Homo sapiens: one gene and its partners. The protein of the gene in region 1 purifies or fractionates together with the protein of each later gene. This does not show direct contact. Each region holds a gene or a part of one and is shown in the gene's direction. Other genes may lie near its edges. The genes, in order: PRPS2, PRIM2, AFG2B and NMT2.

What was found.
Region 2: the proteins of PRPS2 (region 1) and PRIM2 purify together in Homo sapiens (affinity purification with mass spectrometry; 3 studies listed by BioGRID and IntAct, with this or other methods). This does not show direct contact.
Region 3: the proteins of PRPS2 (region 1) and AFG2B purify together in Homo sapiens (affinity purification with mass spectrometry; 2 studies listed by BioGRID and IntAct, with this or other methods). This does not show direct contact.
Region 4: the proteins of PRPS2 (region 1) and NMT2 purify together in Homo sapiens (affinity purification with mass spectrometry; 3 studies listed by BioGRID and IntAct, with this or other methods). This does not show direct contact.

What each region holds. Positions count from the first base shown.
Region 1 is NC_000023.11:12,787,251-12,794,421, forward strand, and holds the start of PRPS2 (ribose-phosphate pyrophosphokinase 2), read left to right. Parts: upstream 1-4,161; 5' UTR 4,162-4,247; coding exon 4,248-4,369; intron 4,370-7,171. UniProt on the Homo sapiens protein: Catalyzes the synthesis of phosphoribosylpyrophosphate (PRPP) that is essential for nucleotide synthesis.
Region 2 is NC_000006.12:57,320,600-57,327,634, forward strand, and holds part of PRIM2 (DNA primase large subunit), read left to right. Parts: intron 1-3,601; coding exon 3,602-3,681; intron 3,682-5,325; coding exon 5,326-5,446; coding exon of another isoform or gene 5,447-5,464; exon of another isoform or gene 5,465-5,768; intron 5,769-7,035. UniProt on the Homo sapiens protein: Regulatory subunit of the DNA primase complex and component of the DNA polymerase alpha complex (also known as the alpha DNA polymerase-primase complex) which play an essential role in the initiation of DNA synthesis.
Region 3 is NC_000015.10:45,398,329-45,405,358, forward strand, and holds the start of AFG2B (ATPase family gene 2 protein homolog B), read left to right. Parts: upstream 1-4,007; 5' UTR 4,008-4,101; coding exon 4,102-5,190; intron 5,191-6,991; coding exon 6,992-7,030. UniProt on the Homo sapiens protein: ATP-dependent chaperone part of the 55LCC heterohexameric ATPase complex which is chromatin-associated and promotes replisome proteostasis to maintain replication fork progression and genome stability.
Region 4 is NC_000010.11:15,105,259-15,109,717, reverse strand, and holds the end of NMT2 (glycylpeptide N-tetradecanoyltransferase 2), read left to right. Parts: coding exon 1-16; intron 17-502; coding exon 503-523; 3' UTR 524-3,019; coding exon of another isoform or gene 3,020-3,031; 3' UTR 3,032-3,948; downstream 3,949-4,459.

The sequences.
Region 1 (7,171 bases):
AAGAAAAAAAAGAAAAGAAAACAAGAAAAGAAAAAGAAAAGAAAAAAGAGAAGAAAAAAAGAAAAAAAGAAAAGAAAAAGAGTTTTATAGTTTTAGCTCTTGCATTTAGGTCTTTGATCAATTTTAAATTAACGTTTGCATACGGTGTGATGTCTTTATCTTTTTACAGATATATGCAGGCTAAATAATTTAGAGGTGAATATATAACATCTGTAATTTACTTTAAAATACTTTAGATAAAAACAGATAAAGCAAACATGGGAAAATTTTGACAGCTACAAAATCTAGGTGGTGGGTATATCGGTGTTCACTCTATTTTCATCTCGGTTTTTGGATTTTTCTTTAAACAACAGAAGTAAAAGGTAAAGTTCTAGAAATAAAAATCAGAAAAATTACTTGATTCTGAGTGAAAATGTTATTAATAGAGAATTAAAGTTGAATCTATTTTAACTTATTTTTAAAGTACATTGCTTATAAATGTTAGCATTTCATAATAAGTTATAAATTATTTGCCACACCCCTAATAAAAACATACAAGAAAAAGGTTATGTCAGAGTGTCTTGGCATTGCTCTTAGGAACTAGTGTTCTAGAACTTCTTGTTCTAATACAGCAACTATCAGCCACATGTGGCTGATGAGCACTTCAGATATGGCAAGTCCAAATTAAGATGTGCTGTAAGCGTAAAATCTATATTGGATTTTGAAGGCTTGACACAAAAAGATGCAAAGTAGCTCATTAATATGTTTTATGTTGATTACATGTTGGAATGATAATATTTTGGATATTGGATTAAAGTGTATTATTAAAATTACCTTCACTTGTTTTTTATATTCTTTTAAAATACAGCTACTAAAGTGTAAATTACATATGTGGCTTGCATTATATTTCTTTTTAAAAAGTTTAAAATTTTTTCATAGAAACATATAGGAAACAATCATTACATTTCTTTTGGATGGTACCATTCTAGAGAGAAAAGGACTGGACTAGAAGATCCACATTCTAATTCCTTTGCTGCTTTCAACTAGCCATGTGACTTGGGGAAATTTCTTCCGTTTCTCAGCCCTAAAATAGTCAGGGATAAATTCACTCAGCAAATACTTAGACTTCTTACTATATACAAAGAACTTGGCTAGATGATGTGGGAAATAGAAGACGTGAAACTGTTCATAAATTCAAATCATTGTTTTACCGTTAATCTCTATCCATGAGTCAATGAAGATAGAAATCAACAATAGAAAATATCTCATCATTTTAATTTTTTCCACTAACATTTTATCTTAAGATAATGTATATTTTATAAACGGTCTGAGACCCAGATCACATATGCACAGAGTATATGTTCTTTTTCTCTTCTAAGTCTTGGGTCTTTGAACAAGTGTTCCATTTTTCCAGAGGCTCCCCAACTTCAAATGTTGTTCAAGAAGTGCACTGTGGTAGACAGTTGGTGGACAGTACTCATGCCCTCCAGTTGTCCCATACCATGTTGACAGCTGGTCTTGGCCATGTAACTTGCTTTGGTCAATGAGACATTAGCAAGCAAGTTAAAAACAGAGGTTTGATAAGCACTTGCTCATTGAGACTTATCTTCTTGGAACACTCCTTGGAACCTTGCAGCCATGCCGTAAGGAAGCCCAAACAACCATGAAGAAAGGCCCACATGGAGGAGAGAAGGGCCAGGGGTTCTTTCAAACTAGTGATTCTCAACCTGTGGTGATTTTGCTCCTTGTAGGACATTTGGCAATGTCTGGGGACACTTTTGGTTGTCACAGTGGTGGATAGGTGCTACTGGCATCTAGTGGGTAGAGGCAAGGGAGGCTGCTAAACAATCTGCAATGCACAGGACAGTCCCACAACAAAGAATTACCCAGCCTAAATATCAGCTGTGCTGAGGTTCAGAAACCTGCTCTAGACCAATGTTTCCCACAACCTGGCTCCTATGGATCAAGGATAAAGGCATTTGGGAGAGAAAGTTTTCACACTTAAATAAAATTATCTGTAGCTGCTCATTTACAAGTGACAGCTTTCTGAACAGTCTGTGACTCATGATGATTTTTCAATGATTCCCATTAGTATTCTCATCAACCCCAATGGCACATTTCACCTTGTTTACATTTAGCATTTAAGCAGAGTAACTCATCAAACTATTGAACCAACAATCATTGTATTAGTTGCCCCAACTGAGATATTGTTTCTCCTTGGTGCTATCAAGTCCATGGTTTGTCACAATTCAATCCGAGCTTCCAAATCTGCAGCCATTTACCCACCCAAAGACCAGGGGCTTTAACTTTTACTGTTTTATAGTCCATCAGCTTTGGTTCTGTGTTACCAAAGAACCACAGCCCCATCATGCTAAGAGGATGCCACTTTCCCTTTGAGAAGAGCATCTATATATTTAGAAGAAACCATTATTAGTCAATTTTATCTATGAGAGAAATATTAAGAATATAAAAATTATAGTAATTTGCTGATAGTAAATTTTATTAGAAGAGTTTAAATATAACTACATTAGCAGACTCAATAAAAATTTTAAACATAGTGGGTCAAGTATAAATCTCATTGCTATGGTAATTAGCTGTGAAATACATAGATAATAAACCATTGCAGATAGGGGTTTTTGTTTGTTTTCTCACATAATAGGGCACATATGCATCTCTAGGCGGAATGAAAAAGGGCCAGAAATGCTGCTAAAATTGTCAGTTTGAATAACTTTTTGATAGGCTGGCAGATACAAAAGTTTACAAGAAACACTCGATGTGCCAAGTAATCTCCTTGCAAAGTACAAGGACCCAGATGAAAAATCCCAATGATGCGAATCATCCCTGTAATCTCCCAAATCCCATTATGAAGTCTGATTAGAGTAGGCTACAACCCAATTGCAAGTGGGCTTTGCTGTTGATGGAGAGCCAATTCGTGGCAAACATTAGTAAAACCAAGCCATTTATCTACCCGGTTGAATCAGCCTTTGTTGAGGAGTGTGAAACTGTGACCAGCATCACCAACCAGCCCTCTATAGACAGGGACTGCTTTCCTTTCTCCTACACTTGGTTTGTGCCCTGAAGTTGGCTCTGGTACTGCATTGGCATCTTGAGAAAACCTTTTTGCTGGTTTCTAGCAGGAAAGAGAGGAAGGAGGCCCTGACTCCAGGGATGTGGAGGGACTGAGCTGGATTGTCTAGGGAGATCTGTGTTCCTGGGATCAGGCCCTTGAGCACCCAACAGGCAGAAGGTTGTGAAGTGCCCCAAGGACCATCACATCTACCGAAAAATGGTGAATCTGGGGGACTTGGTTTGATCCAGTGAGCCACCAAGAGCAATACTTCCCCTCAGCCTGTGATGAGGACTCACATAGTGGTTGGATTTTTTAAGGACACATGGTGCAGGGGCAACTCTGTAGTTCAGGGGTCATCAAGTTTGAACTATGAGGGACCACATGGCCAATATTTACATTTTGCAGACCAAGCAAGAAAAGGGAAGATATTACGTAGGAACTTACATAACAAGAGAGAAAAAATTGTCACAATGTTTTTATTGATATAATCCAAAATACGGTAATATTTGAGTACAATTATTTGCAACTCACATCTATTAATGAGAGAAAAGGAATTCTTTTGCGGGGGGGATATTTCTCTTAATTGGAGTTCAAAGGCGGTGTCTGCTATCATCACATAAAGTGCAAATGTTCATGTATGAAAACCATGCTTAGCTCTCTGGTACAAACACAGGGAGCTCTCGCGATCTGGCCCATAGGCTGTAGTTTGCAGACCCTTGCTATAGCTGAACACCAGTCGCCCACACTGGGTTTGCGGTGTTCCGGGGTGGGAAGTCGCTCCGGGCTGCGAAGCACCTCGAGGGATCCCCCCGGCCCGAACTCTCCCTCTGTGCCCAGCTAACCGCGGTTCATTGGCTCTCCCCGCGAGGCAGGTCTGGAAGATCAAGAATGAAGCTCGGAGCTCTCTCGCGGAGCAAGGACACCTTCGGGCTTCAGGACCACCCAGGGCGTCCAAAACTGCTGCCAGGGCTGTGCCCCCGCCCCCCGGCACTTTCCAGCTCCCCCTCCACGCCCGCTCTTCCTCCCTCTCTGCCCCCTCTAGCTCCTCCTCCGGCTCCTCCCCCTCCGCTCCTCCCCTTCCCTACATCTAGCCGCCGCGCTTTCCCGCTCCCGCAGCAGCAGCCTCCCGCGTCGCTGTCGCTGTTGCCTCCGCCACCTCCTCCGCCGCCGCGCGCCCCTCGGAGTTCCGCGCCCCACCATGCCCAACATCGTGCTGTTCAGCGGCAGCTCGCATCAGGACCTGTCCCAGCGCGTGGCCGACCGCCTGGGCCTGGAGCTGGGCAAGGTGGTCACGAAGAAGTTCAGCAACCAGGAGACCAGGTGGGGGCCGCGCCGGCGGCCGGGCTAGGGAGAGCGCTGGGCACGCGGCTGCGGGGCCGGGTTGGGGGCCGGCGCCTGCCCGGGCCACCTCCGCGGACGCCGCGCTCCCCCTTCCGGGGCGGGACGGTGGCAACGCGGCCTCCGCGCCCCCGCGCCCGCGCCTGCGAAGAAACCGAGGCGGGGCGCCGCGCGTCCCGATGCGCGCCTCGGCTGTGCCCCCGGTTGCAGGGCCTCCGGTCCTGGGACCGCGGCGACCCGGCGGTCCCGAGCCGCTCCCGGCCTCCCAGCGGTGCCGCCCGGCCTGGCGTCCCCAGCCCGGAAGGGAGACGTCTGGGCGGTCACAGACCGTCGGGGAGAGAGTGGGCGCAGCGGGCGGGAACCGCATCGGGTCAGCGCGCGGTGGAGAGACGTCCTGGGTTGGCTGGTCCCAGTTTCCGCGTCCCTACAAAGCTGAACCTCAGACCAGTGCGTGCGACTAAAGGTTTCCCCCCGTCCCCAACTCTGGTTGCACGCTGGGTTTACCTGGGGACGGTCCGAACGCTGCTTCCCCCGACCTGCCCCCAAGGGTTTGATCCAACGGGCGGAGGATCAGCGATTTTACAAGCTTCCCTGGCTTCTCCTGAGCAGCCAGGGCGCAGACCACTGCGTTATCCAGAGGGTGCAGTTGTGCCAAGGTTTGAAAGACTGTGAGAACCCCAGGACGCACGTGCTGGGCTCCCCTCTGCTCCCACTACTCTTGCTGCTTTAAAGATGATGGACTTTCAGCTTCCTTCTTGTTCTAGGACTCTGCTGTGTCCAGCAACAACGCCGTGATTCGACTGTAACTTTCACCCATTTCTCAAGTCCAGGAGAGCCTCAGGTGGTGGCCATCCTCGGAAGCTGACCTGGGGGGCTCCTTTGTCTATCTGCCTGAGTCCACACAGCTCCTTGACTCATTTCAAATTGGTCTCATTTTTCCCCCTTCTTCCTCCAATGTCTAGTACCGTTAACTGTCCACAGTTACTGATAATTTTTATATCTTTGGCAAAGGTTCAATTTTACCAACATTTTCTAGAAATGGTGTTGGAACAGTTGGACACCCATATGCCAAAAAATATGAACTTCCATCCATACTTTTCACCATTTGTAAAAATTAACTTTGAAGTGGATCATAGACCTAATTGTAAAATCTAGAACTATAAAATTTCTAGCAGAAAATCTTGACTTGGGGTTAGGCAAAAATTTCTTAAGGAGGAGTTATGTTAATACTGATGGGGAAGATGCTATATTTTGGCAAGTCAGCTTTTTAGGATATGTGAATCTTACGTGACTTCTTCCAGGTGGCAAATTCCAGTTATGGCTCCGATGATAATATAAGCGAAGAAACATTGTGAATGAGTGGCAGGTGGACTTTGGCTAAAGAATTCCACTCTGCAGTGTTTAATGCAGAAGTCTGAGAGGATGGTCTAGGGCTCTGGAGAAGGATAGAGCTAGGTTTGAGTGTTGCAGTATTTTGCCAGTCTTGTTCAAGTTTCAGTCGCTGTAAGAACACGAGAAGAAGAATAGTTTTTGTTCAGAAGGTGTCGTCATATAAGTAAAGGAGAAATTTGTTGATGAAGTAAATTTTGAAAGCAAATATGTTGCCCTTCCAGGTACTCAGTGCAGCATGATCTTTTGCTAAGGAGCATGGTTAATCTAGATCAGTTCACTGCTAAGTCAGTGTTGAGTTTCTCCTAAAAATACCACATGTGCCACTGGGCAAAACTCACTCAGACACTGAAGTATGATTGTTTATACATTTGGTTCAAATATAAAGCAGACTCACTTTTATTTTGTTTTTGGCATTTTATAACCATCACTTGATAATTAGAAATCGTGGGACCTCAAAAACCACTCAGCATGAAGTTTGGGAATTGCCTATATAGCTACATTTTATGTTTTTAATGTATAGAGTATAAAAGGTTCACTGCCTGACTTTTCTCTTTTCCATGAACTGTACAAGTACAGAGCTTAATTTTTATAAACAGCCCTCTCTGGACCAGTTACTGTGCTAGGAATCCAGCTTTTAGCTGTGTAATCGTAGAGAGGAAAAACTGAAGGGCAAAATGAAGACAAAATTGATTCAGTTCATGTAAGGGCCCCTTCTTGAATCTGTCACTGAACTAGGATCAGAAATCTGGTTTGCTGTCTCCTGGCCATCAATCCTCCCATTTTGCGTTTTTTATATGCTACTTTACTGAACATAGAGCCTTCCAATTTTACCTTCTTATCCCTAAATCATTTCAGATATGCAGGGAGAGGTCCGCTCCAGCTTCACTATAGACCATGGAAATTCCATGATGACATCTTAGGACAGCAGGTGTCTAGATGTCTCTGTTGTAACATTTTACTATGGTCAGTTAACCTGCTGGCAGAATCTTTAGCTATACTGTGAGACAAGGTTATGCAAAGTTATACAAGGTTATCGGTTACCATGTAATAAATAAAGAGCTTAATGGCTTAAAACAGTAATTGTTGATTTGGCTTACAAATCTGCAATTTGGGAAGGGCTCAGTGAAGAAAGCTTGTTTTTGCCGCGTATGGTCACAGCTGAGGCTGGTCACAGCTGAGGCGGCTAACTGGGGCTGGAGGGTTCTTGAAGATGGCTCACATGACTGAAGTTGTTACTAGCTTTTGCCTGGGAGCTTGGTTAGGAACCTCAGCTCCTCTTCTTGTAGGCCTCTCCATGGGGCTGCTTGAGCTTCCTTACAGCATGGAAGCTGGGTTCTAAGAGCACATGTTCCAAAAGACAGGACATTGAAGCCACCAGTCCATTAAGGACTG
Region 2 (7,035 bases), on another chromosome or scaffold:
GCATTTATGTATTGAGTGTCACTTGTGGGAAAGATATTATATTAGGCACTGGGCTTTTATAAAGACTAATGTATCATTAGCCTGAAGGTTCTTCAGTGTATTAGGGGTGATTGACATGAAGTCAGATGATTATAATATGGCAGGGTTTCTCAACCTCAGGACTAACATCATTTTGGGTCTGATAATTCCTTGTTGCAGGGATTGTTCTGTGCACTGTAGGATGCTCAGTAGCATCTCTGGCTTCTACCCCTACATATTTCCAGACATGCCAAATGTATCCCGTGCAATACAGGATGATGACTGTGTTTATAGATGCATGCTCCAGGAACTCCAAAAACATACATAATTATGCAGCTCAGATTGGGGAGGTTTGGGAAGGCTTTCCAGAAGAGGTAGTAGTGGAGCTGCATGTTGACAGATGTGATTAGATTTTCATTTTGGGAAGATGACTGCCAGCAGCAGATTGACAGGGTCATGTCTGTTAGGAGGGAAACCAGTTAGAAGCCCGGAAATGATGAGAGTCTGAATTAAATGAGAGAAGGGGACCGGTTGAAGAGACATTAAGAAGGTAGAATCAAAAGGTTTTAGTGACTGATTGTAGGGGGAATGGAGAGAGAAGAGTTATAAATGACACCCAGGTTTCTAGTTAGGAAAATTAGTGGATGGTGGTAATATTTTGAGATGTGATATGCAGGAGGAGAAGCAAGTCTTGGAAGACGTAGAGTTTAGTTCTTAACATGAATTTGAGGTGCCTGTGGAGATGTCTAGTGGACAATTGGATATACAGGTCTGAATATACAGGAAGACATGTGGTGGGAGTAGATTTAGCAGAAGGTTGGAATCATCAGGAGTAGGTAAGAGCACCCTAGAAAAATATTTGAGTGAGAAGAGATGACAGTGGAAGTTAAGACATGAGGAATACCAATATTGAAGGTAAAGTGGAATTGGAGGAATTTGGGAAGGAGAATGGAAAGGAGCTTTCTCAGAAGTAGGAGATGAACCAGGATAGTAGTGTCATAGAAGCCAAGGAGGGCTAGAGTTTCAATAATAATGATCATGATATTAATAATGATAATAGGGAATAACAGCAGATATTTATATTAATAGTATGTTTGCTATGTACCAGATTTTGTTCTAAGTGCATTACATATATTAACCCATGTATGTAATTCATACAGCAGTCTTATGAGGTGGGTATTATTATCATCCCTATTTTACAGATACAGCCTATTTATTCACAGACTGAATAACTTGCCCAAGCTCATAAGATGGTAAATGGTGGAGCCAAGATTTGAATCTGGGTATTTTGTTTCTGTAGTGGTGCTTTTAACCACAATAGTTTCAGAAGCTTAAGATAGATTATGTAAGATGAATTGTACAGTGTCCATTGGATTTAGCAGCTGGATGGGCCCTTATAGATAGGGGCAGAGACCAGAACAATGACAGTGGTTGGAGAAGGAAGGTGGAGCGGTGGATATAGAAGATGTACTTTTTTAAAATGTGTAGCTGAAAAGAGAAGAGAAATAGGGCAGAATATAGGGGTTGTTTTAGGGAAAAGAGAAGATATACAAGCACACACTTGTACATATATGACAGGAGATACTTAAACATGTTTATAAGCTGAGCAGAAGATCTAGAATAGAATGGGGAAGAGGGGAGCTTGAAGTTGAAACTTTGAGAGAGCATTTGATAAGTCAGGGTCTTTAAGAGGCACAAGCAAATGGGTTGCGGGGTTTAGGTGCAGGAATTAGCTTTTCATATGGTTTGGCTGTGTCCCCACCCAAATCTCATCTTGAATTGTAGTTCCCATAATCCCCATGTGTCATGGGAGGGACCCGGTGGGAGGTAATTGAATCATGGGGGTGGTTACCCCCATGCTGCTATTCTAGATAGTGAGTTCTCACAAGATCTGATGGTTTTATAAGGGGCTTTTCCCTATTTTGCTCAGCACTTCTCCTTACTGCCACCATGTGAAGAAGGACGTGTTTGTTTCCCCTTCTGCCATGATTGTAAGTTTCCTGAGGTCTCCCCAGCCCTGGGGAACTGTGAGTCAGTTAAACCTCTTTCCTTTTATGGGTTTACTCAGTCTTGGGTATGTCTTTATTAGCAGCATGAGAATGGACTAATGTAGCTTTACATGCCAGGAAGAGGAGATGCTTTGTAGAGATGTATGGAAGGCAACACAACATGTGTATGCGGAAGCTTGGGACTGAAGGATTCTGCCTGGTAGCCTTTATTTTCTGTAAAGTAGGTGAAGTCATCTGTTCAGAGAGAAGGGAAAGGTGCTATAGTAGGGGTCTTGGGACAACTGGTGAAGACTGACGATTTTCTGAGAAGTGAGGAAGGAGATGATTTTGTGTCGAATCTCAACACTGCTGCTTACTCTGGACAAGCTTTGTGACCCTGAACAAGTTACATAACTTCTCTGTGCCTCAGTTTCCTTATCTGTAAAATAAGATTATAGTAGTGCCTCCCTCATAGGGTTTTTTTTTTTTTAAAGGATTAAATGGGTTCATGCCTTAAAAATTCTTAGGGCACCGCCTGGTACCTAGTGAGTGCTCAAGACATGTTTGTTCTTATTATTTTGGATCCAACTGTTGGTAAGGATCTAGTTGAGATTATAGGCCACGAAATTATATTTTCCAAATTCCCATAGTTGTGTTTTTTCTCCAGAGGTTCTTAGCATTTTGAGAATAGGACTGCAGAGTGTAGTTGTAGATTAAGAATCTAGGTTTTGCCAAATGGTTGAAATTAAAGAAGCTGAGGTTGGTGTAAGAAGTGGTTGAGGTGGTGAGCACCTTGGATATAGGCTGGATAAGAAGAAAATTAAAAGAGAGGGGTTGGTGGGAAGAAAATAGTGCGGTCCAAACTCAAGGGGTTTTGTCAAGATTAGTTTACTTCTCGGTTTCATCTGATTGATAGCTTAAGGTAAATGATAATTATCCTGAAAAGCATATTAAGAAATGTTTTGGCAATGAGAACACATGGACACAGGGAGGGGAACACCCCACACCAGGGCCTGTCAGGGGGTTGGGGTCAAGGGGAGAGACAGCATTAGGACAAATACCTAATGCATGTGGGGCTTAAAACCTAGATGACGGGCAGCAAACCACCATGGCACACGTATACCTATGTAACAAACCTGCACATTCTGCACATGTATCCCAGAACTTAAAGTAAAAAGGAAAAAAAAAAAAGAAATGTTTTGGGACTGGGTGTGGTGGCTCATGCCTGTAATTCTAGTGCTTTGAGGGACTAGAGTAGGAGTCTTGAAACCAGGAGTTCATAACCAGCCTAGGCAACATATTGAGACTCCATCATACAGAAGATAAAAAATTAGCGGGGCATGGTGGGTGTCGCTTGTAGTCCCAGCTGCTTGGGAGGTTGAGGCTGGAGGATCACTTGAGCCCAGGAGTTTGAAGTTACAGTGAGCTGTGATTGACCACTACTCTCCAGTCTGGGTGGTAGAGCAAGACCCCATCTCTAAAAAAAGAAATGTTTTTGAAACTTACTTTACCATTGGCTTAGGCTGGCTCAGTATTTCCTTACACCTCTTACCATTCTAATGCATTTATTTTATTCATGTGTCATTATTTTTAAGGAAAACTTAGAAGATGAATATGAACCACGAAGAAGAGATCATATTTCTCATTTTATTTTGCGGCTTGCTTATTGCCAGTCGTAAGTATATGTTTATATTCTCACAGTCAAATCTGGTGTCATGGGTTATAAATTGGTGTGTGGTAAGTTGATGTGTTGTGCTAAACATAGGAAAACCCAGAATAACATCAGGAGCCGGTTGATCATGGGGTTGAACACTGACAGTAAATTGTTTGGAAGAAATTGTTTACTTAAAAATATTGAAAAAAATTCTATCGCAGAATTTTGCCTGATGAAACACTTCTTAAGTTTGTGAGATAGACTCTTCATTTGGGATTTTAAATTGGAAAGGATTTTATTGGGAAGAAGGACTTTTGATATTTTTCCTGCAAAAAAATGGTAATATTTATAAGAAACAATTAATGAAACCCACACTTGAATTTGATACAGGTTTTTGGAATTTGAGCTCTATGGGCCAGTTAAATCGAAGATATTTTTGTTTGGTAGTTGGTTTCTTTTAAGTTAATAGTGCCACCCAGAGGTAGTAAAGTTAGTTGCTTTTTTAAAAATTGTTTTTCCCTCACATGTTAATTTTGGTCACATAATTTAGTTATGGCTGTCTTTTTTTAAAATTAATAAGCTTATCAAGTGAGACTCTGGAATTGCTTACTATCCCAAGATAATAATTGAGAAATTACTTACCAGTTTTGGTTCTAGAGTTTTTCTTCTGTAAAAAAGCATATGTAGTTTGTGAAATTTATATAATAAATATGTTGCTGACAATCTGTGAAAATCTCCTAAAAATGTGAAATCATATTTTGCATCCAGTAGGGTAATTATTTTATTATATAACGATAATGCCCATTAGTATCTGCCTTATAAATGAACGTTATTGCTTTTAAATATTGTGGTATATATGTGCATATTAAATTTTGTGAAATTATCAATTATAAAGCCATAAGCAAAGTTTCCTTTGCAAAGTTAATCTGATCAAAGTTGCCTTAAAAAATTTGGTGTCTTTTATTTGGCATTTATAAAGACACCTCAAGCCAAAGGAGTGCCCCATTTCCCCATTTTCTTTTTTTTTTCTCTTTTCTCTCTCTCTCTTTTTTTTTTTTGAGCTAGGGTCTCATGCCATTACCTAGGCTGGAGTACAGTGGTGTGATCTCGGCTCACTGCAGCCTCAACATCCGTGGGCTCAGGTGATCCTCCCACCTCAGCCTCCTGAGGAGCTGGGACTATAGGCACATGCTACCATGCCTGGCTAATTTTTTTGTAGATATGGGGTTTTACCAACTTGCCCAGGCTGGTCTCAAACTTCTGGGCTCGAGCAATCTGCCTGCCTTGACCTCCCAAGGTGCTGGGATTACGGGCATGAACCACGACGCCCAGCCCCTATTTTCTAACATAAAATGAATATTTTGCAGTTACATTAAATGCATGAAGTATTTTATGTTATTTAAAAATAATGCAGCTAGTCTCGAAGCATTCTTGTATTTAATCTTTTTAATTTTTAACACCCCCTATACCTTGTACCCAACCCATCCTTAGAAGATTGTGATATGTGGTATTGATATTCTCCTTACCGTGATAGAGGACTTGCATGTTTTTAACTGCTGTCCATTGGCATCTTGCTGATGTTTGAATATTGTTTTATAAACATTTCTTAGATTTAATAATTACTGGATTTTTAGTTTGTACTCATAATTTCTGTCTTCATTTCAGTGAAGAACTTAGACGCTGGTTCATTCAACAAGAAATGGATCTCCTTCGATTTAGATTTAGTATTTTACCCAAGGATAAAATTCAGGATTTCTTAAAGGATAGCCAATTGCAGTTTGAGGCTGTAAGTATATTTTTGTAGTTATTTCTAATTGTTCTCACCATTCATTTTTCCCTTCTGTCTTAAGTGCTGGTACTAATGTGTAGTGTGTTCTCTTTACATTCTCCAAGTACCTGCCTGAAACAGTAGCTAATAGCTTTGGATAACAATATATCTTTCCTTCTCTATGACTAGAAGAAAAGGACTCCTTAATAACAAAGTCTCACACTTACTTGCTCTGTTAAATGTGTGCTTTATTAAAGCACAAGAAGGTTTAGTTTATAAAGGTTCATCTTTAACCAAAATTTTGTCGGCCAAAATAAAGCTAATAATGTGTTAAACTAGACAAGTGGTAGTTTCTTATTTATAGTCGTGAAATTTAGAGGAGGTAATACTTTATTTAAAAGTCAGTTGTCAGGCGGGGCGTGGTGCCTCACACCTGTAATCCCAGCACTTTGGGAGTCTGTGGTGGGCAGATCACTTGAGGTCAAAAGTGCGAGACCATCTTGACCAACATAGTGAAACCCCCACTCTACAAAAAATACAAAAATTAGCCAGGCATGGTGCTGCGCGTCCATAATTCCAGCTAGTCAGGAGGCTAAGGCATGAAAATTGCTTGAACCCGGGAGGTGGAGGTTGCAATGAGCTGAGATCATGCCGCTGCACTCTAGTCTGGGCGAAAGAGCAAGACTCCGTCTCAAAAAAAAAATAAAAACCATAAATCAAAAATGTCAGTAAGATCTGTATGAATAGTTTTAAAAAATAATTTTGCAGACATATCTGAATGATTTACATATTGTAATTATATAAAAAAAGAAGAGATCTTTGGGACTCATTTAATGGGGATGAGTATTGGAAATAGAATTTGTATCTTTTTTTTTTTTTTTTTTTTTTTTTTGAGATGGAGCCTCACTCTGTCATCCAGGCTGGAATATGCAGTGGCCTGATCTCGGCTCACTGCAACCTCCACCTTCTGGGTTCAAGCGATTCTCCTGCCTCAGCCTCCTGAGTAGCTGTGACTACAGGTGTGTGCCACCATGCCTGGCTAATTTTTGTATTTTTAGAGACGTAGTTTTGCCATGTTGGCCAGGGTGGTCTTGAACCCCCTGACCTCAGGTGATACACCCGCCTCGGCCTCCCAAAGTGCTGGGATTACAGGTGTGAGCCACCGTGCCGGGCCTAGAATTTATGTCTTTTAGGTAGATATATGCCACAATGGGAATGTAGAAACATTATGTTTTGGAAGTTTTAGAGCAGTCAGATGGTAGTAGGACTGGCAGAGACTCTATTTTGTTGTTGGAATGCGTGGCTTAAAGCCAAATAAAATAAAAAAGTAGAAGTTGCAATAGGTGAAAGACATTGTCCTGTCTGACAAGTAGAAGACATATCCACTGTAGCAAGGAACACTATGGAGTATATGAGTTAGGGAAAAGAGACTGTGAAGGGAAGTGAACAAACATTTTGTAGACGTTTAGTGTCAAATATATGCTAGGTAGGCAGTTTCTATAGTTTCTTTCATTTACTTCATGAGGTTTCTAAGTCACATCTACCTTTGCATAGACAGATGTCATGCATGGTACCATCTGAACCAAACCCACTGCATCTTCCACTTT
Region 3 (7,030 bases), on another chromosome or scaffold:
AAAAAATGATGAATCAAGCAATTTCCTGAAAATGTGCAAGAACAGACTTTCAGAATGATGTTCTATGAACTGTAGTCTGCAGGTCATTTGAAATCCAGCAAATATTTTCATCCTCCTTCTTCTGATTCTATAACTTATTCTATATCTAGAATTACTCTAAAGACTAATTCTAACCTGGATACAAGATAAAAAGTAAAGATGGAAGATTCTAAAGAACAATTTTAACAATGTCCCATTTAGGGGGATTTTCATTACATACTTTATGAACACAGGTTCGGCATATTAGCTATCCGTGGAAATAAGTCACTTACTACATCTACATGAGCATGTTGAGATGAAAGTGTTTGCAAATCATGCTTTTTCAAGGGTGGCTAAACAAATCTCTATTCATCTATTACAACTCATAGTCATTGCTAATGTTCAAATATATTAGGGTTGAACATAACACAAAAATGGAAATGCTGGAAAGATTAACATTATTTAATCTACAGATGACTCATGCTACTGGTTTAACCATTTTCTTTAGATTTTTTTCATATACAGGAATATATTTTTATATACATATATAATATGCTGAAGGGACAAAAATATTGCATGATCATTATCCTAAAGAAACAGATTCCAATTATTTCTTTTGAATTATAGACTTACAGTTAATTAAGAATTTTTATAGTTAATTAAAAATTAGACAGATTGTAACCTTGAATGTAACAAAGGACATAAAGAGAAACCATTTGTCACATGTACCTTTTCGGGAAAATCTCACAAAAGATTTTGTTTGGCAAAGCTATTTGAAACAATTTAAAGCTAGAAATGTTTCTAGGCTATAGCAAGATGAATTCCATCGGTTTGGATTTTGACCTACCACTAAATTTTGGATTTAGGAACAGTCTCATTTTTATACTTAACACAAAAATTAAATTTTAACTTAGAAACTGAGTTTTACACAGCTTGAGGCTTGTGAAAAATTATGTGAAAATAAGTCAGTTACTGCTAGGGTCTCAGTGTTTGTGTCCTCCACAAAATTCATTTGTTGAAATTTTAACCCTTGAGATGATGGTAGTAGGAGTCAGGGCCTTTTGGGAGGTGATTAGGTCACGAGAGTGGAGCCCTCATGAATGGGATTAGTGTGCTTATAAAAGAAACATGAGGGAGCTAGCTAGTCCCTTCCACCATGTGCAGGTACAATGAGCTGTCTCTAGACAGGGGGCCCTTACCAGTCATGGAATCTGCCAGTGCCTTGTCTTTGACTTCCCAGCCTCCAGAACTGTAAAAAATAAATTGCTGTCATTTATAAGCTACCTCGTTCGTAGTATTTTGTTACAGCAGCCTGAACAGACTAAGCCAGATAATATATAGAGACAACAGATGGCTTCATACACCTAGGTGTGAATCCTGGGAAAATTGAGTGGAAACCACAGTTGAGAACACCAACGTCCTAACAATCCTGTAGCCTTCAGGCTTAGTTGGTTCTGGACTCCCTCTAGTGGTTCAATTCTAGTGCTTTAATTGATGTTCTTCAATTCATAGAATTAACAAATTTCTGGTCAGATTAAAAACAACTAAGCAAAAGAGCCACACAACTCCCATTAGAATGGTTTACCACAAGGAGGCCAGGTGCAGTGGCTCATGCCTGTAATCTCAGCACTTTGGGAGGCTGAGGCAGGTGGATCACTTGAGGCCTGGAGTTCGAGACCAGCCTGGCCAACAGGGTAAAACCCTATCTCTACTAAAAATCCAAAAGTTAGCCAGGCGTGGTGGTAGGCACCTGTAATCCCAGCTACTTGGGAGCCTGAGGCAGGAGAATTGCTTGAACTTGGGAAACAGATGTTGCAGTGAGCTGAGATCCTGCCATTGCACTCAAGACTGGGTGACAGAGCAAGACTGTCTAAAAAATAAATAAAATTTTAAAAATAAAAAGAATGGTTTATCACAAGGAGATTATGTCATTGAATGGCATGATAAATATGGATGTTCAGATGGCTGAAATCATAGTGTTGCAAATGGTTAGACCTAAAGGGACAGAATGGATTTTACTGGATGATTGGGAAAGACATTTATAGTTTTGCTCAGAGTGAGTGGATAAGAGCTGAAGGCCCAGTAACAGAATTCCTTGTTGCTTTTGTTTGCAACCTATGGTAAAGACTGGATCTTTTAGAGAAAGAGTGAAGTGAAATAATATTTCCTGTGCATATGGATTCTATAAGGTCAGAGGGTTCTTGTTTGACCTTGTATAAAATCAACCTCTTAGACCAACCAAAAGCAACATGTAGTTTCCTTCTCATCATATTCCTAATAGCATAGTTTGTGCCTCTGTTTTAAACCAATTCAGAAAATTTTGAGGCCGATTTAACTTTATTGGCTCCCTGTTTTGGCTTTGGTTATTCCACTCCATTAAACCTTTACTTCTTGGCCATTTCTGCACTGTAAATATAAGTAAATCTACTAACTCTTTTACATGAGATCCCTTTACATATTTAAGACAGTTATCCTGTCCTCAGTAAGTCTTCTTTCCCTCTCCCAGATCCTTAAAGCTTCTTGGAGCTGAATAGAAGGAACTCGATGAGGTACAGGCTTCTGATAAAATAACTTGATAGGCATGTAATTCACACCTTTAGGGGTCGGTAAAAACGATGGCTTTTTTTTTATTTCAAAAAATGCAAAGCTGTTATTTAAAAGTCCCCAAACCAAAAAGAACTGAAGCCAATGGGATTAAGAGGAAAAAAGAAAACAGGAAGTAATGGGTGACTTATCCATTTCAAGACCTCCTCCTGCTATTTTCTGATTCCTAAATTGTTCCAGAATCGATTTAAGCAGACAAGTACAGCTGAGACCAGGTAAGTTACTGTCAAGTCAAGAAGTCTGTCATGTCTGCCATGAAGTTTGGACAGAATGAGATCAGGAACTGGCATGGGTCTTAAGATCCCAGATCTGACAGTACTTCCCATTGATAAGATATTACTACACAGTCTGTAATTGATTATTTGCATAGATAGAAAAAAAAAACTTCCCAGCAACTTAAGCACTCTAAAATATCAGTTTTGTCAACTCACAAATTTGGGTTGCAGTGAAAGTGGGGAAAATAGAGGTAGGAAGATGTAAGTCAAATAAAAACAAGGTATATCTTCTTGTCTTTGAGTATCTGTAGTTCTTTTTTAACGGCAATTAAGAGGGATAGAAAATGTATTCCAGCTGATAAAAAGGAATTCCCTGTGCGAAAGGGAAAGGCAGAAAGCAGCTGGAAAAAAAAAATAGCAGGCAGTTGTCTTAATAACGTAGATAGGTATCGCCTCTAATACAGGACTTAGTACTGTTGTGCCCCAATTAGACAGTAAGCATTGATCGCATGAACTTTAGTGATTAACTTGTTGCCAAAGAATATTCAAAAGAATATCAGAAATCAGAACAAATGTACTGTTGGTGTGCTACAAATCCATCAGGTAGCCTAGTTTTCCTTCTTTCCTCTCTACAAGGGATTTTAAGCGCTACCGTGTGCTTCCCTCCCACTATGCTGGTACTTTCCCATAGGAAGGGTTGTGCCTGGACCTCCCAGATTGGAACCCCGATTACCGAAGGTCCCAAGGCTGTATTCTCAGTTACGCCAAGTCACCTGAGACATTTGCACCAGAGCACCCAAAATTCTGTGCCCATGCGGATAGTTAGAGTTTCTTCACAAAATAGCAAAGTCTCTAGGTTGCTATTCCAACGGCGGTAGTACTGATGCTCCAGTTCGAAGGCCAGGAAAACAGAATGTAAAGCCGGTGACTTCCAAGATATATGTAACCACCAAAGTACATGCTTAATGACCTAGTGAAGTGAGCTTAAGCCGCCTCCCAGACACCTGTAACGAAGACCATCTCGGGAAAGCTCTGGGTTAGGCAACTCGATTTCACGAAAGCGGACACCAACGCTCTACCCAGAGGCCCGAGCGTCGTCTAACGTTTCCATTGGCCCTTTCGGCCTTCACTCAGCTGCTAGCAACGCAGTCTGCCCTAGCGCATGCGCGCAATCTGCTTCCGGCCTGCGAGCTCGGTGTTCCGCTTTTTGTGGGCCGGGTGGGTTTCCTAATCTGGTTTCGTCTGCCTGGTTCATCTGTGTGCGATGGCTCCGGACTCGGATCCCTTCCCTGAAGGGCCGCTCTTAAAGCTGCTACCCTTAGACGCTAGAGACCGGGGCACCCAGCGCTGCCGCCTGGGCCCGGCCGCCCTCCACGCCCTGGGCGCGCGCTTGGGCTCGGCAGTGAAGATCTCGCTACCCGACGGCGGCTCCTGCCTCTGCACTGCCTGGCCTCGGCGGGACGGAGCGGACGGCTTTGTGCAGCTGGACCCGCTGTGCGCGAGCCCCGGGGCGGCGGTCGGGGCGTCGAGATCCCGGAGGAGTCTCAGCCTGAATCGCCTCCTCCTAGTGCCCTGTCCGCCCCTGCGGCGCGTCGCCGTGTGGCCGGTGTTGCGAGAGCGGGCAGGCGCGCCCGGTGCCCGGAATACAGCCGCGGTGCTGGAGGCGGCACAGGAGCTGCTGAGAAACCGACCGATCTCCCTGGGCCACGTGGTGGTCGCTCCGCCAGGCGCTCCTGGCCTGGTGGCTGCCTTGCACATCGTCGGCGGGACGCCCAGTCCCGATCCCGCTGGGCTGGTCACCCCTCGTACCCGCGTCAGCCTTGGCGGGGAGCCTCCGTCGGAAGCCCAGCCGCAGCCCGAGGTGCCCCTGGGAGGTCTTTCGGAGGCGGCCGACTCGCTGCGGGAGCTCCTCCGCCTCCCGCTCCGCTACCCGCGCGCCCTGACCGCGCTGGGCTTAGCGGTGCCTCGCGGGGTGCTCCTGGCGGGGCCCCCCGGAGTGGGCAAGACCCAGCTGGTGCGGGCCGTGGCGCGCGAGGCGGGCGCGGAGCTGCTGGCAGTCAGCGCCCCGGCGCTGCAGGGTTCCCGGCCTGGGGAGACCGAGGAGAACGTGCGGCGGGTCTTCCAGCGCGCCCGGGAACTGGCCAGCCGCGGACCCAGCCTCCTCTTCCTGGACGAGATGGACGCCTTGTGTCCCCAGCGGGGCAGTCGAGCACCCGAGAGCCGCGTAGTGGCCCAGGTGTTGACGCTGCTGGACGGCGCCAGTGGGGACCGCGAGGTCGTGGTTGTGGGAGCCACTAACCGGCCGGACGCTCTAGACCCAGCGCTGCGTAGGCCCGGGAGATTTGACCGAGAGGTGAATGGGCTTGGCGGGTTTGCCCACTGTCGGTGGAACCTCGGCCGCTTCTGGCGCCATTTGGCTGCCCCGGAGGCGTTTGCCTCTTAGGTTTGAGCATCGGTGAGGTTGGAGTTGGGGCTCTTTGCAATGCAGAGAACACGTTCTCTGCCGATATATGATCTGTGAGTCAGGACCTGTATTTCCCCAGAGTCAAATTGTCAGGACCTGTGAGTCAGGATCTGAGAGTCAGGACCTGTTTCCCCAGAGTCTAATTGTTTTGGGAAGCGAGGTGTCCATTACAGATTAATTTTGTTGTGCAGGTCCTATAATCAGTAATGTTAATTCTTAAGAGAATTTTGGTCACCTACAAGCGTGTTAAACTCATTTTTTGGAATGAGAATTTAAAGAAGGATAGCCTCAAGAAGTAAGTGTGTTGAAATAAAAAGGGAGAAGGTGGGGAAGAACTAAATGGAAGCAGGCATTAACTCTTCTGGATTTATTCATTCCTTGTCATAACACCAGCATCCTATTCCACAATTGAGGAGGTACCCACAACTGCTCCCTGAGTTGTCAGGGAGGTTGAATATTCAGAGCTGTCCTATTTTAAGCTTTGGTCCTAAATTGACTTGAATTCTAAAGAACAGTTTGAAATTTAGTGACTGATATTTCTATTTTGTGATAGGATTCAAAAGAGAAATGATAATTACACACTTTTAGCTCAGTTAGTTCAGGACTTGAGTGGATTTCTTCCTTGCACTATCTAGTACCTGTGTCCTTAAGGGCAGGGACCTAGCTATCTATACCTGGCTTCTAGAACTTTGTGTGTTCTTAAAAATAACAAAAACTTGTTAAATGACATAGAATTTTCATTGTGCAACTTTCTAGCCAGTGTTACTCCTCTGGAATATTAGGATTTTCGTATATTCAGAATCTAAAGTATACGTAAAGTGCACGGTACTAGTTCCAAAGTGGTTCACTAAATTGTCGTACATGTTTGTCAGGATAAAAAACATATTATTATTTTGGCCGGGCGCGGTGGCTCACGCCTGCAATCTCAATACTTTGGGAGGCTGAGGTGGGTGGATCACCTGAGGTCAGGAGTTCGAGACCAGCCTGGCCAAGATGGTGAAACCCCGTCTCTGCTAAAAATACAAAAAATAAGCCGGGCATGGTGGCACATGCCTGTAGTTCTAGCTACTCTGGAGGCTGAGGCACCAGAATCACTTGAACCAGGAGGTGGAGGTTGCAGTGAGCTGAGATGGTGCCCGCTGCACTCCAGACTGGGCAGCAGAGTGAAACTGTGTCTCAAAAAAAAAAAAAAAAGAAAAAAAAAATATATATATGTATACACACACATATATAAAATTTTTTTGGAAGTAATTCTTTTTTAATTGATCTATTTTTATTGATACATAATTGTGCATGTTTTGGGGTACATGTGATATTTTGGTACATGCATACAATTTGTAATTATCAAATCAGGGTGCTTAGGATATCCATCACCTCAAACATTTATCATTTCTTATCTGAGTGTTGGGAATATTTCAGATTCTCTCTAGTAGCTATTTTGAAATATACGAGAAATTATTGTTAACTATAGTCACCCTACTACACTATCAAACATTACACATATTCCTTCTACCTAACTGTATGTTTGTACCCATGAGCCAACCTGTCTTCATCCCCTCACCCCCAACCCTTCCCAGTGTCTGGTTGCTATCATTCTGCTGTCTACCTCCATCCATGAGATCAACTTTAAAAATAATATATTTTAAACTATATACTTCTTCTTCTTTTTTTTGTTTTGCTTTGCATATAGGTGGTCATTGGGACTCCCACACTTAAACAAAGAAAGGAA
Region 4 (4,459 bases), on another chromosome or scaffold:
TACAGATTCTGAAAAGGTAAGTGAAATGGATATAGCCCTTGTAAACTCAACAAATGTACCTAGACAATTTCATACTTGCTTCACTTAGACTTAAGACAGCTTTATTTTATTTTTGTTCATTTTATTTATTTATTTATTTATTTTTTTGAGATGAAGTCTCGCTCTGTCCCCCAGGCTGGAGTGCAATGGCATGATCTCAGCTCACTGCAACCTCCGCCTCCCAGGTTCAAGTGATTCTCCTGCCTCAGCCTCCCGAGTAGCTGGGATTACATCCACCACCATGCCTGGCTAATTTTTTCATTTTTAGTAGAGATGGGGTTTGACCATGTTGGCCAGGCTGGTCTCAAACTCCTGACCTCAGGTGATCCGCCTGCCTTGGCCTCCCAAAGTGCCGGGATTACAGGTGTGAGCTGAGCCTTAAGACAGCTTTTAGAAAGACAGATCTATTGTACTACATTGCAATCTAATTTTTCTTACTATTCCATTTCTTCCCTCCCTTCAGGTTGGACTAGTACTACAATAGATGGATATTTTTATTTCTAGAACTCTGACATCATCATTTGTTAATATTTAATGATTTCTGGAACTGCCATTCCAAAGAAGAATAAAAGCACAACTCAAGTGAAATTGAAGTAGTCGATAATCAGAAAAGATGACAAAAGTCCACATGTGACATTTGTACGTTTCTAGCTAGAATGTTAAACTTCATCCTTTTTTTACTGTTGACCTATTTGTGGGAGGGATGAAAGGCTACAAAGAGCACATTCTTGTAATTTTCAAATTTTTGCCTGTCTCTTGAAGAGGTATTTTTTCACCCTTAGAAAAGGGACTGTTTTTCTATGGACTAAGTAGAAGTTACAGAGTCATGTAAGAAAATCTTTGCTATTGTGTGGAGAGAAATTGCTGCATTTCTGTTTCTTAAGTGATGGTACATTTGTCCATGTAACAGAACAAAAGATCCATTTGGAAATTTTTTTTACTGGTATCACCTTACATGGTATCACTGGGAACATTTATGGAATCAACACTTCTGTAGCTCAGTGACAGGTGGTGGTTGTTTAAGTGCAGAGCAATATTAAAATGTACTGGTGACTAGTACATGTATTTCTCCATAAGCAGAGTTGCCGAATCAATAAACATGCAAGTTTGTACTTTGATCTTTACCAGGTCAGTGGATTGCTTCAAAAGCAGAGTTTTGTGCAAGCACTCACTGTGCTCTCTGAAAGAGCCTGAGGCCGGGCGTGGTGGCTCACGCCTGTAATCCCAGCACTTTGGGAGGCCAAGGTGGGCAGATCATGAGGTCAGGAGATCGAGACCATTCTGGCCAACATAGTGAAACCCCATCTCTACTAAAAATACAAAAATTAGCCGGGCGTGGTGGCGTGTGCCTGTAGTCCCAGCTGCTTGGGAGGCTGAGGCAGGAGAATCGCTTGAACCTGAGAGGTGAGGTTGCAGTGAGCCGAGATCGAGCCACTGCACTCCAGCCTGGGTGACAGAGCGTGAGACTCCGTCTCAAAAAAAAAAAAAAAGAAAGAGCCTGTACCCGCGACTAACTAGACTTTTCTGCTGTTGTGCAAAGTTCAGTTTCTTCTCAGCAACATCAAGGATATATGAAGAAAAGGAAATAAAAAACTGTAAAGTCAAAAGAGATGCCTGGTGGAACTTATTCGTGCTATCAGGGCATTGATAGTTTGAATGTTTTTATTACTTATGCAAAATTGCACATACTCCTCTATGCTGATTTTATCATGAAAACTGTCATGTGTCATGCTAATGGAAAATGTCTTATTTGTAAATAAGTATTCATAATTTTGTTACTGATGGTGTTTTTAATCTAGAATTTGAAAAACTTTCATGGCTTACAGATGTGTGTTTATATTGCCAATAATCTGCGGGAAAAATAAGATGCTAACCGAGGCCACGTAGCCTGGCCTCAACTCAGATACCACAAAGTAGATGCCTTGGCTGGGTGTGGTGGCTCACGCCTGTAATCCCAGCACTTTGGGAGGCCAAGGCGGGCGAAACATTTGAGGTCAGGGGTTCGAGACCAGCCTGGCCAACATGGTGAAACCCCATCTCTACTAAAAATTCAAAAAGAACTAGCTGGGTGTGGTGGCGGGTGCCTGTAATCCCAGCTGCTAGGAGGCTGAGGCAGGAGAATCACTTGAACCCAGGAGGCGGAAGTTGCAGTGAGCCAAGATCGTGCCACTGCACTCCAGCCTGGGTGACAGTGCAAGACTCCGTCTCAAAAAACAAAAGTAGATACTTTTCCCTGCTTTTACTGGGCCAGTGCCTAGGAAGTTCAGTGCAGAAGTTAATTGTTTTAGACATGATGGCATTTCCTTCAAGTTATGAGTCCAGTGAAACCAATCATATCTTATCCCAGGCAGGGGCCACCAAACTATGGCCTGTGGGCTAAATCCAGCCCATTGCTTATTTTTGTGTAGCCCACAGGCTAAGAATGTTTTTATTTTCTGGAATGGTTGAGGAGAAAAAGCCAAAAAATGACATCATTTTGTGACATGTGCAAATTACACAAAATTCAAATTCCGGTGTCCCTCAATAAGGTTTTATTGGAACATAGCCATACTTTTTTTTTTTTTTTTTTTAGGACAGGGTCTCACTCTATTGTCCAGGCTAGAATACAGTGGCACAGTCAACAGCTCACTGCAGCCCCAAACTCCTGGGTTAAAATGATCCTCCTGCTTCAGCGTCTTTTTGAAGAAAAAGAACTAGCTGGGCGTGCATACCACCACGCCTGGCTAAGTTTTTCATTTTTTGTAGAGACAAGGTCTTGCTATGTTTCCCGTGCTGGTCTTTAACTCCTGGCCTCAAGTGATCCTTCTGCCTTGGCCTCCCAAAGTACTGGGATTATAGACATGAGCCACCACTCTTGGCCACAGCCACTTTCATTTACATATTGCCTATGGCTGCTTCACACTACAAAGCTGAGTTGAGTTGTTGTGACAGATTGTGTGGCCTGCAAAGCCTAAGATATTCACTCTCTGGTCTTTTACAGAAAGTTTGTTGACCTTGGTCACTACGAAGGAGTTGGAACTCTCCTTTCTATAGGTTGCCGTGATTCTAAAGACCAACCCACAGCTGTGACATCCCTGAGACTACCACCAGAGGGCGACTGGGCCCCACAGTAGTACATAATATAGGACCTCTCTTGGAGATAATGGAAGACTTGGAATTTCAGATGGTTCCACCCTAATTGCATTAGCGTTCTTTCTTAACAGGAGAAAGGCTTCAAGAAACAAAACAGTCCTCATTCACTGGAACAGGGTTTGAGATACCAGCATTAAGTAAATGAGATTTTGACTTAACCTGGAGTCAAGGCTCTAATTTAGGACTTTACTTCCCACTCATTTTCATGCCACAAAGTCTATACAAAGTAGGTTTTCAAATAATTGCAGAATCAGCCAGGCACGGTGGCTCACACCTGTAATCCCTGCACTTTGGGAGGCCAAGGTGAGCAGATCACTTGAGGTCAGGAGTCTTGAGACCAGCCTGGCCAACATGGTGAAGCCCTATCTCTACTAAAATTACAAAAACTAGCCGGACATGGGGGTGTGCACCTGTAATCCCAGCTATTCAGGAGGCTGAGGCAGGAGAATCGCTTGAACCCAGGAGGCGGGGTTGCAGTGAGCCGGGATCACACCACTGCACTCCAGCCTGGGCAACAGAGTGAGACTCTATCTCGAAAGTAAAATAAATAACTGCAGCATTGCCAGTTGGAAACTTTGTCATGAGCTTACCTCACGGTGACAGTTACACTGCTCCTTTAAAGAGTCATTTACATAATTTGTTATCAAATTATTAACCACTTTTAAATAGAATAATAACTACATTTGCCTCCATAATTGAAGCAGATTACTAATTAACATTTTCGAGAATTAAACTGCTTGCTTATGAAGTAGCTATTAAAACTAAATTGAAATGCAATGGATAGTTTCTTGTAGATTTAAAACTGCATTGTACTGTACTTTGTCTATAATGAAAATGTTCTATTCAATAAGGTATCTTTTTTTCTTCTTTTTGGCCAAGATGGCACTAAGTAAAATTTAAATCGAGAGATGGCATAATCCATGAGTCAGCCAGACTTTCAGCTGGAAAAATCTTTAGTAAATACCTTCCTTCTAAATTACAGAAAGTAACTTTTCCATACACACTGTAAACAGCAGACACTCTAACAGAGCATCGGTTATGCTCCATCTCCTAACCTGAAGGACTCTTGTCACACACCCACCTCTGAGAACCCAAGCTCCTCAGTTTTTTTAATCTTTTGGCCACATTTCATCCAATTACCATCATACCTTTTATACGTTAGATTTCCAAGGAGGTAAGTGAATCACGTAATGGGGGTGAACTGTACCCAGTCAAAATAACCTTATCTGACTTTTTCTATATTTTTGATATTTTTTCTCTAAATATTAAGTCTTTCTCCCAAGCTCAT